3 linked regions of the Homo sapiens genome follow. The protein of the gene in region 2 interacts with the protein of the main gene of each other region in a biochemical or structural test. Each region holds a gene or a part of one and is shown on either strand. Other genes may lie near its edges. The genes, in order: PINK1, PRKACA and MGMT.

Region 1 (3,500 bases), on a different chromosome or scaffold from region 2:
CAGTGAGCTGAGATGGCGCCACTGCACTCCAGCCTGGGCAACAAAGCAAGATTCTGTCTCAAATAAATAAATAAATAAATAAGTAAATAAATAAAGAAATAATAAAAGCCAGTTCCTCTAGTCAATTATTTTAAATCTTCTAGTTCAAAAATTTATCAGATGTATGAATCTCCTTACAATTTTCCTAGGCAAGTGGCCATTCAGCTTCTACTTGAATGCTTCCAGTGGTAGGCAACTCATTTCCAGAGGCAACTGGGCTTACATTTGGACAGCTTTCATTGTTTGAAAAATTTAATTAATTAATTAATTTATTTTGAGATGGACTCTCACTCTGTCGCCAGGCTGGAATGCAGTGGCACAATCTCGGCTCACTACAACCTCCGCCTCCCGGGTTCAAGCAATTCTCCTGCCTCAGCTTCCCAAGTAGCTGAGATTACAGGCGCCCGCCACCATGCCCAGCTAATTTTTGTATTTTTAGTAGAGATGGGGTTTCACCATGTTGGCCAGGATGGTCTCGATCTCTTGACCTCATGATCTGCCCGCCTCAGCCTCTCAAAGTGCTGGGATTACAGGCGTGAGCCACTACCCCCGGCCGAAAGTTATTTTTTATAATGAGCTAAAGTCTACTTCTCTTTTACTTTATTATTTTTTATTATTTTTTTGAGATAGGATCTCACTCTGCTGCCCAGGCTGGAGTACAGTGGCACATTCATAGCTCATTGCAGACTCTTAACTCCTAGGCTCAAGTGATCCTCCGACCTCAGCCTCCCAAGTAGCTGGGGCTACAGGTGCATGCCACCATGCCTGGCTAACTTTTTTTCCGGCTAATTTAAAACATATTTTTTTTTTGTAGAGAAGGGATCTCACTCTGTTTCCCAGGCTGGTCTCAAACTGCTGGCCTCAAGCAATCCTCAAGCAAGCCTCCCAAAGTGTTGGGATTACAGGTGTCAGCCACTGTGCCGGGCCTCTTTATTTACCTAGGAAAACTTGCAGCACTGAGGTCCTTGTTCTTTAAGTGGGCTAGAGAAAGGAACTTGGGAAGTGCTGTCTCTCTGCAAAGAGAGAAAAAAAAACCCCGTTCTAAGGGAGAGATTGCTAACCTCTTGTGTGCGGAGCTAAATAAAGACATGACTTAGAACACAAAACCAGAGAGGACCTGAAGAGTCAGTCCTAAATGCTCCTGACCCACCCTCTAGTGCCCCTGGAGAGCTCTGATGGTGCAGCAGGTTCCTACCTGGGTCCAGCTCCACAAGGATGTTGTCGGATTTCAGGTCTCTGTGCGCGATGCCCTGTTGAACCAGATGGTCCACGCCTTCCAGCAGCTGCAGCAGCATCATGGCGGCGAGGCGGGGGCTGGGTGTGTTCACACAAAGGTACTGGCGCAGGGTACAGGGATAGCTGGCGGAGAGGGGAGAGGGCCTCTGGCTACCACACATCGACGACTCCCAATACGTTTTTTTTTTTTTTTTTGAGATGGAGTCTCACTCTGTCGCCAAGCTGGAGTGCAGTAGCACGATCTTGGCTCACTGCAACCTCCACCTTCCAGGTTCAAGCAATTCTCCTACCTCAGCCTCCCGAGTAGCTGGGATTATAGGTGCCCGCCACCACACCAGGCTAATTTTTGTATGTTTAGTAGATACAGGGTTTCATCATGTTGGCCAGGCTGGTCTCAAACTCCTGACCTCAAGTGATCTACCCACCTCCGCCTTCCAAAGTGCTGGGATTACAGGCGTCAGCCACCATTCCCGGCCTCCTAATAACCTTAATCACTGTTAGGGTTAGGCCGTTCCTCTTCCCCTTCCAGGAGCACTTTGATTCCCACTTTTCCCCAGCATCCTTTCTGTTCCCTCCCACTCACCATCCTCAAATTAGGAAGTAAGAGTTGGGGCTCCCTATATTCAAAGTAATGGTGCAGATAATTATTTCCTTAAAATAAAATACCCACTATAGCAAAGTTAGGGGATACAGAGGGTGAGGAAGGAGAACGGTTTTTATGTTAAAAACAGATAAGTCCAGCCACAGAAAAGGTTAACAGTCAAATGGACCAAAAGGACTAGGTGACAAGTATGTTCTGGATGAAGATGAGAGTTTGTTTCCATGAAAAATCGTCCTACAGGGAAAATGCTCTCCAGGGCAGATATGTTCCCTTTGCATGGCTTTCTTCTCCGGAAGGGTGATGACCCTGTTCTCCAAAACCCCCTGATCAAGGTGCACATGGAGGGCAGGAACCAGCTCCCCTTGGGAGATGTATCAGCTCCAGGCCCTGCCGCGCTGCTGTCACTTACTTCTTCATAACGAGGAACAGCGTCCGGCCATGGCCCAGGCCTTCAGGGTGGAGGCGTGAGGGCAGCACATCAGGGTAGTCGACCAGGGCCCCTGGCAGCAGCGGCACGGAAGAGGTGAAGGCGCGGAGAACCCGGATGATGTTGGGGTGAGGGGCTAGTTGCTTGGGACCTCTCTTGGATTTTCTAGTCAGCCAAGTGAGACAAACATATGAGGCCAGCATCAGATACAACACCTGGAAAGAATAACCTAAGGCCACACCAACACTGGCACTGACATTCATTATTCACTTACTATCAAATGTTTATCATAGATTTGCTATGTGCCAGGTACTGTACATGGTGTTGGAGAACACATCTGATGACTCCCCTACCCATCCTTCAATCCATTTGTCCATCCGTCTGTCCGTCCGTCCATCCGTACACCCATCCATCCTATCCATCCCATGTGGCAGAACACAGGTGGAGAAACCCTGGTATCAGACTGCCTGGGTTTGCATTCCAGGTCTGCCACTGTAAGTCCTTGGCTGAGTTGCAGTAGCCCCAACCTTATCCACAGTTTTGCTTTCTGCAATTTCAGTTATCTACAGTTTGAGAATAGGTGAGTACAAGAAGATATTTAGAGAGAGGAGAGAGAGAGAGACCACATTCACATAACTTTTATTACAGTATATTGTCATAATTATTCTATTTTATTAGTTATCTTTAATTTTTTACTGTGCCTAATTTATAAATTAAACTTTACCATAGGTATGTGTGTATAGGAAAAAACACAGTATATATAGGGTTTGTTACTATCTGTGGCTTCAGGCATCCACTGGGGGATCTATCTTGGAATGTGTCCCCTCTGTCCTTATCTTCTCTGGGCTCAATCTCCAGGGTGCAAGGGGAATGCAGTGTTAACACGCTGCATAAGGTTGTCAAAGTGTGGAAGGCACCTAGAATCGTGTCTAGCACAGAGGAAGCTCTCAGCTGCTATTAGCTGTACTATTATTCATTCAACCAATACGCACTGTTTGCATGCTGAGTACCAGACATCATGCTGGAATGCTGTGGAACTATGGCACAGAACAAGACAGAGTCCCTGTCCTCATGGATTTGCAGTCTATCAGGGGAGAGAGATATTCATCAATGAGTAATCATGTGAGCTCCCTAAGAGCAAGGACTGTGCCTGAATTTTCTCCATTATTCCAAGTCTAGTACAGTAGTTGGCATAGA
Region 2 (3,727 bases):
GGCCGGCGCGTCCAGCTTCACCACCTGGCCTGACTTAAGGAACTTCTAGATTATTCTGACAACAAGCAGGGCTCCCCAGGGAATAGGATGGGTGAGCAGGGAACGGTCTGTTTCTTCCAGGGCTGTGTCCCCACATCCGGACCTCACCTTCCCAGAGACGATCTTCTCATAGATCTGGATGGGCTGGTCTGCGAAGAAGGGCGGGTAGCCAGCGGCCATTTCATAGATAAGAACCCCCAGGGCCCACCAGTCCACGGCCTTGTTGTAGCCCTGGAGCAAGATGGGGGGGCACAGGGTGAGGAGGAGGCGAGAGCAGGAGAGCAGAGCCGGCCTCAGGGGAAGGGGAGGGCTGGGGAGGCTCCTACTTTGCTCAGGATAATCTCAGGGGCCAGGTACTCAGGGGTGCCGCACAAGGTCCAAGTGCGGCCCTTCACGCGCTTGGCGAAACCGAAGTCTGTCACCTGTGGGCACAAGAACAGGCAGTTGGCAGGGAGGAAGGGTCCAGGCCACGGCTTCCCCAGGGCTGCCCCTCGCCCGGCCTGGTGGGCACCTGAATGTAGCCCTGCTGGTCAATGAGCAGATTCTCCGGCTTCAGGTCCCTGTAGATGAGATCCAGCGAGTGCAGATACTCAAAGGTCAGGACGATCTGGGCCGCGTAGAAACGGGCATGGGGCTCACTGATGGGGACAAATGGGGAGGTGAACGTCAGTGGTCATGCCCCAAAATGGTCCAGCAGGTGGCCCTGCAGAGCCTACCCCAGAGGAAGACACCTCCAGTCCAGCCGTCAGAAACGCAAGGCACCTGATTCTTAGATAGCCCGACATGGGAAACAGCCTGTGGGTCCATCCACAGGAAAATGGAATCACAGACTGAGCTATAGTCATACAATGGAATTCCACTCACCACCACCACCGCCAACAGGACAGCCCATGCATCCACTCAACAATGTGGCTGCATTTCAAACTGATTATGTTAAGCAAAAGAAGACACAAAAGAACATGAATGATTCCATTTATATCATGTCCACGCCCAGACAAAACAAAGGCACGGTGTTTGAAGTCAGAAAGGACAACTGCCTTTGGTGGGGAGGTGACGTGTCAAGAGAGGGATTCGGCCCGGTGCGGTGGCTCACCCCTGTAATCCCAGCATTTTGGGGGGTCGAGGTGGGAAGATCGCTTGAGCCCAGGAGTTCGAGACCAGCCTGGGCAATATAGGCAAGACCTCACCTCTGTATGTATGTAGATATGTGTGTGTGTGTGTATATATATATATATATTTTTTTTTGATTAATTTATTTTTTTTAAGACAGTCTCGCTCTCTTGCCCAGGCTGGAGTGCAATGGCATAATCTCGGCTCACTGCAACCTTTGCCTCCTGGAAACAAGTGATTCTCTTGCCTCAGCCTCCTGAGTAGCTGGGATTACAGGTGTGCACCACCACGCCCGGCTAATTTTTATATTTTTAGTAGAGACGGGGTTTCACCATGTTGGTCAGGCTGGTCTCGAACTCCTGACCTTGTGATTCGCCCGCCTCGGCCTCCCAAAGTGCTGGGATTACAGGCGTGAGCCATGGCACCCGGCCTCCACCTCTGTATGTTATTGGAAAAAAAAAAAAAAAAAAAAGGGATTCAAGGGAATTTTCTTAGGTGATAGAAAAGTTCCATATACTGTTTTGGGTGGAGGTTAGGTAGCTATATACAACTGTCAAAACTTGTAGCATGGAACATTGAAGAACTGTGCATTTTGTTGTATGTAAAGTGAATCTATAGTTATCTATCTAAAATACAACTACAAGGCCAGCGCGGTGGCCCATGCCTGTAATCCCAGCATCTTGAGAGGCCAAGGCGGGGGGGGCGGATCACCTGAGGTCAGGAGTTCGAGACCAGCCTGGCCAACATGGTGAAACCCCATCTCTACTAAAAATACAAAAATTAGCCAGGCAAGGGGGCATGCACCTGTAGTCCCAGCTACTTGGGAGGCTGAGACAAGAGAATCACTTGAACCCGGGAGGCAGAGTTTGCATGGAGCCGAGATCGTGCCACTGCACTCCAGCCTGGGTGACAAGAGTGAAACTCTGTCTCAAAAAATAAAATCAAATAAAACTACGTATGTAAACTTATAAGTTAATAAGACAAATTTATAAGTTAAAAATTTTTTTTTTCTTTCAGCAGGGTCTGACTGGGTTACAACCCAGTCTGGACTGCAGCAGCGTGATCACGGCTTATGCAGTCTTTTTTTTTTTTTGCATATGTTGAACCAGCCTTGCATCCTAGGGATGAAGGTGGGCTCATGCAGTCTTGACCTCCCAGACTCAGGTGATCTTCCCACCTCAGCCTCCCCAGGAGCTGGGACTACAGGAATGTGCCACCACACCTGACTTTTTTTTTTTTTTTTTGTATTTTTTTGTAGAGATGGGGTCTTGCTATGTAAGGCTGGTCTCAAATTCCTGGGCTCTAGCAATCTGCCCACCTTGGCCTCCCCAAGTGGGATTATAGGGCATGAGCCACAGTACCCAGCCTGTATCTTAAACTTACAAATTTCTGTATATAGATTTATTTTATGTATAAAAATATATATTAAAATCTACACATATAAAACTGTCCACCTATATAAAATAAAATAATAGTATAATTTTTATTTTATTTTTTTGAGACGGAGTCTCGCTCTGTCACCCAGGCTGGAAGTGCAGTGGCGCGATCTCGGCTCACTGCAAACTCCGCCTCCCGGGTTCACGCCATTCTGCCTCAGCCTCCCGAGTAGCTGGGACTATAGGCGCCCGCCATCACACCCGGCTAATTTTTTTGTATTTTTTTAGTAGAGACGGGGTTTCACCATGTTAACCAGGATGGTCTTGATCTCCTGACCTCGTGATCCGCCCGCCTCGGCCTCCCAAAGTTCTAGGATTACAGGCACGAGCCACTGCGCCCAGCCAATTTTTTTTTTTTAAAAGAGACAAAACCTCACTATGCAGCCCAGGCTGGTCTCAAATTCTTGAGCTCAAATGATCTTCTCACCTCAGCCTCAGGACTAGTGGGACTACAGATGCATGCCACCTTTTGGGGCTCAAAAAATGCACAAAATCAACAACTTCAATTTTTTTTTTTGAGACGGCATGTCACTCTCTCACCCAGGCTGGAGTACAGTGGTGTGATCTTGGCTCACTGCAACCTCTGTCTCCTGGGTTCAAGTGATTCTCCTGCCTCAGCCTCCCAAGTAGCTGGGATTACAGGTGCCCACCACCATGCCCAGCTCAGTTTTGTATTTTTAGTGGAGACAGGGTTTTGCCATGTTGGCCAGGCTGGTCTCAAACTCCTGACCTCAGGTGATCTGCCCACCTTGGCCTCCCAAAGTGCTGGGATTACTGGTGAGAACCACCGTGCCTGGCAGCAACTTCAGTTTGGACACCTAAGTTGCCCTGTTTGCTCTGTTTTGTTTTGTGGTGGTTGAAATATCACATATTCCTCAGCAGAGGGGAAACAGAAACCCACAGGGTCTGGGAGACCACCTGCATGTTGAAGTATGCTGGACTCCTCTGCATTCCCAGGGGGCTTGGTCGTGCACTGCCACCTGTGGACACCCTGACAGCCTGATGTGATGGGGGGTGGCCCGCTTACCTGAACCTTCCGATCCGCCGTAGGTGTGAGAACATCTCCCCGCCGGGCACGTACTCCATGACCATGTATAAGTTTGAGTTGTCCTGTGGGAAGCAGTGGCTGGTCAAGGGCCCAC
Region 3 (3,727 bases), on a different chromosome or scaffold from region 2:
GCACAGTCCCGGGACATGGCTGGCCCTCTGCATCCTCCCATCTTTCCTCTGGCCCCACTGCCCTGGTCGTTCCACTCTCTAGTGGGGTGCGGGGTAGGCACAAGGCACACGCAGGGACAGCTTTGCCATCCCCAAGTCCTCACTGCACCCAGCCTCAGCTACGGCTCAACGCCTTCAAGCAGGAATACACTTGGGCGAATTGCTTTTCCCACAATGCTAAAGACAACACTTGGTCACATTGATGTTCAGAAAACATTAGCTACATAAACAGGTCTGTGTCTGTTTACACCCTGTCTTGCCCCTTAAAGGACTTCTAACAGCTTCTCAGGCTCATCGTTGCAAAGCCAGCCTGGCACAAGTGGTTATGAGCCTGCACTTGGTTATCAAATAAATCTGGGTTGAAAACAAAACTCTACCTCTATCCCAGGAGACCTGTGCAAGTCACTCAAACTCTCCGAGGCCCGGGTTCCTCATATGCAAAATAAAGACACTCACAGCGCCTTCTCCTTCATGGGGTGGTGGTGAGCCTTTCCTAAGTTGGTCTGTACAAGGCAACAAGCGCAGCACGCCCAGAATAACCACCAGGGTGAGCTGAACCATGACAGGAGATTAAGGAGACACCCCAAATAAAAATAAGGCCCATTTCCACAAACACACGAAATGCTGCAGACTTCCCATTTTTGACCAAGTTTACCCAGCGGACCTGCGTTACCCCTCACTGCTGTGATCTAAACGGCCGTCACACATGGGAAAATACTGTCACATGCTGGTGTCACTGCTGGTTCCTGGCCACTGCCATCGTGTCAGATCCTGTGTCCGTCCTTTGGGAAGTTCTTTCAATATAACAGATGAATAATGTCAAGGCTCCCAGTGTCTCGGGCTATCAGCAACTGCCAAGTGCCCCTAGGAGCACACATGAAGCCCACCTGCCCACTCTAGGCCGATGTGGCACACCTGAACCTTTAGAATGCTGCCACGTCGAGAATGTCTACTGTGAAAAGACAGAAGCAGGTGGCAGAGCCAGTAGCCTCTTTACAGACAAAAGGACTTCAGGGACCTAGTAAATGAATAGGGAACTACCTTATGCTGCACACAGACAATGCACTGTGACCTCAGACGCACCAGAGGTGGCAAATGTGGCCAAGTGATCCCGACCTCCAGTCCTGCCTCCACCAAAACAGAGCGACTCTGCATCCGCAAACACCAACCGCCTTCATTCAGGCCTCCCCAGCGCCAGGCCTCCTTCTGGATGGGAACTGTCCCTGGCCCTGCTTTTGGAGAAATCTGGCCTTGGAAGGTTAAGTAACTCTGCTCAAGGGCACAGGATTGTAACTTGTAAAGCAGGTCCAAACGGAAGCCCATCTGTTCCCAGAAGGTGCACTTCTGACCACCGTGCACATGCCCCCAGTGAGGGCTTGGGTGTGTGCAGATCTGCAAAATACAGATTCGGATTGGACTGGGGGGAAAACGAGGGCTCGAAATGGTTCTTCGCCGTCTTCTCGTTTCATCCTTCCGTGAGACTCAGCTCCAAATTAAAATTTCTATCCATGTAGTGGATAGAAATTTTACTTTTAAAAAAATATGTATTTACTGTCTCGTGTGCCTATACTTACCCGGGTAGACCGAATAAGCATAATCGTCCCCACCCAATGGATGAGGAGGTGCCTGGAGGGCTAAGAGTTGCCCAGGGGGACCCAGCTAGGAAACAGCATCACTCCCACACACGGCCTGGCACTTCCTGTAGAAAAGCTCAATTCAGTCCCACAAAATGTATTCAGCTGTGCCTCTGAAAGTGCACCCTCACCTGAGACCAGGAAAATGCCTTGACCCAGAGGGGGATTAAAAACAAGACAACCCTCTCAAAAGGAAAGAAGGGGTGAAATATGATACGGGTTGCCCGTGCTTCGCGTGTGTTTGTAAAACTGACGCCAAAGTTTTGGTAACATCTGCATCTTGTCATAACCACAAAACTGAAAACTCAAAAGCAATAATAACATGTTGGGTTTGCAATTTGAAGAGATTCACGTCTCTCAGGAGTTACAAAACCGTACTCAGACCCATATGCACAGAAAACCTGCAGCAATGCCAACTGCCGATGGATACTTCTGGAAGGGGGACTCGGATCTTGCCTGGGCTGGAGAGTGCTACTTCCCAGAGGATCCTAAGGCCTTCCCTAGAGGTGCTCAAGCATTAGGGTCTGCCAGAATCCCCTGGCATCCCCAGGTTCTGGTCCTGTAGGTCTCCCATGGGGCCCTGCAATCGAGAGACCTCTCTAGCCAGCACCCACAGTAATTCTGATGCAGAGGGCCCAGGTCACCCTCAAACGCTCCTCCACTGTTGCCTGTGAAGATCCCACTTTACGGAGAGCAACAGGTTCAAGGGGCTGTGACTCGTCAGGCCTTGCTGGAATCGCATTCCAGTAGTGGCTCTTACCCCACACAAGCAGGAGAGACACCTGAACATGATATCCCCGGCTGCCCACCGGAGTCCTCTTGACTGGGAAGTACAATGTAGCTAAAAGTTTAAAAACAAATGATAAATAACTAGCGATTATTTATTGCATTTCAACATATAATGCCCCATCTCCTTCTCTGCCCTGAGATTCATTCACTCTCTTCACCCACCTAAATATCTCTGAACATCCCGTGCCAGAATTGCCTGATCCGTCAATAAGGCAAGCGCTTTCTAAACCTCTATGCATATGACTCAATTTGTCAGTAAAAACTGCCACCCGCGCTGTGCTTGCAGAAAAATGTCCATAAACACATTATTGCGACTGGCAGAACGATGTCTATAATAAAAACACATAGATTTAACAAGTACCTCCTTTCACAAGCCACGCCGCTGGTGGACTATCCATTCGGTGTCCCCCAGCCCAGACTTCTGGGAATGGGCGGCAGGGCTGGGTGGGAGCCTCTGCTGACTTCGCAAGCATCACAGGTAGGAAATTATTCTACCAAGAAACTTTTAGGAGTAGGAGAGTGAACACACCAGGCATTTATTGCACTCTCACCATTCCTTTCATGGTTACACACACTATGACTAATTTAACAACCCTAAGAAAATGTTTTTGTAGAATTTTTTACTGGTTTTAGAACAGCTACCTCCAGGTGGGGTGAAGGGGACACGAGGCCTCCTTGGAGAACCCTGCTCTGCTGCTGAGCCACTGATTTAACTGAAAACAACTTGTGGTGTCAAAACCAAGTTTCACCATTCAGAGCATCCGCATGGGCAGCTCCCAGGGCGGCCTATTCAGTTACTTAGCTGGAGGAGCTTCGGGAGCGCAGGCTGCTGAGGACTGGCTTTGCTGCCGGGACCGAGCACCTTGGCAGGACTCAGTGTTTGATTCCTTTCCGGGTGATCCACACCTGCCAAAGCCACTCTAATACTTCAAAGATCAACAAAGTCACAAAAATGATTTCTTCCTCTTCATAAATCACTTCAATAGCTCTATGAAGAAGTCAGTCATTCATTACATTCCATACTATATTCATTAGTTTCCCCCAAACTATGCAGCCCTCCGATATAAGCTGTACTGTTAATTTTTTTAAGTCAAAAGAAAACTAGACTATGTCCACCAACCAGCAGATATGCAGCAGTTAATGAAAAGCCACAGAACACACATCTTGCAACATTTGGTCCACAACACAAGGTCTCCAACTTCTACTTACCTATGTCCAAGACAGGCCTGCAGAGCTAACAGCGTAGGTTCACAAAATCCTCATGC

The links.
Region 1: of the proteins of PRKACA (region 2) and PINK1, one has a biochemical effect on the other in vitro, tested with the Homo sapiens proteins (one study listed by BioGRID).
Region 3: of the proteins of PRKACA (region 2) and MGMT, one has a biochemical effect on the other in vitro, tested with the Homo sapiens proteins (one study listed by BioGRID).

The regions. Positions count from the first base shown.
Region 1 is NC_000001.11:20,643,458-20,646,957, reverse strand, and holds part of PINK1 (serine/threonine-protein kinase PINK1, mitochondrial precursor), read right to left. Parts: intron 2,469-3,500; coding exon 2,286-2,468; intron 1,399-2,285; coding exon 1,235-1,398; intron 1-1,234. UniProt on the Homo sapiens protein: Serine/threonine-protein kinase which acts as a sensor of mitochondrial damage and protects against mitochondrial dysfunction during cellular stress.
Region 2 is NC_000019.10:14,097,214-14,100,940, forward strand, and holds part of PRKACA (cAMP-dependent protein kinase catalytic subunit alpha), read right to left. Parts: intron 3,696-3,727; coding exon 3,613-3,695; intron 678-3,612; coding exon 551-677; intron 462-550; coding exon 366-461; intron 271-365; coding exon 148-270; intron 1-147.
Region 3 is NC_000010.11:129,470,214-129,473,940, reverse strand, and holds part of MGMT (methylated-DNA--protein-cysteine methyltransferase), read right to left. Parts: intron 1-3,727. UniProt on the Homo sapiens protein: Involved in the cellular defense against the biological effects of O6-methylguanine (O6-MeG) and O4-methylthymine (O4-MeT) in DNA. Repairs the methylated nucleobase in DNA by stoichiometrically transferring the methyl group to a cysteine residue in the enzyme.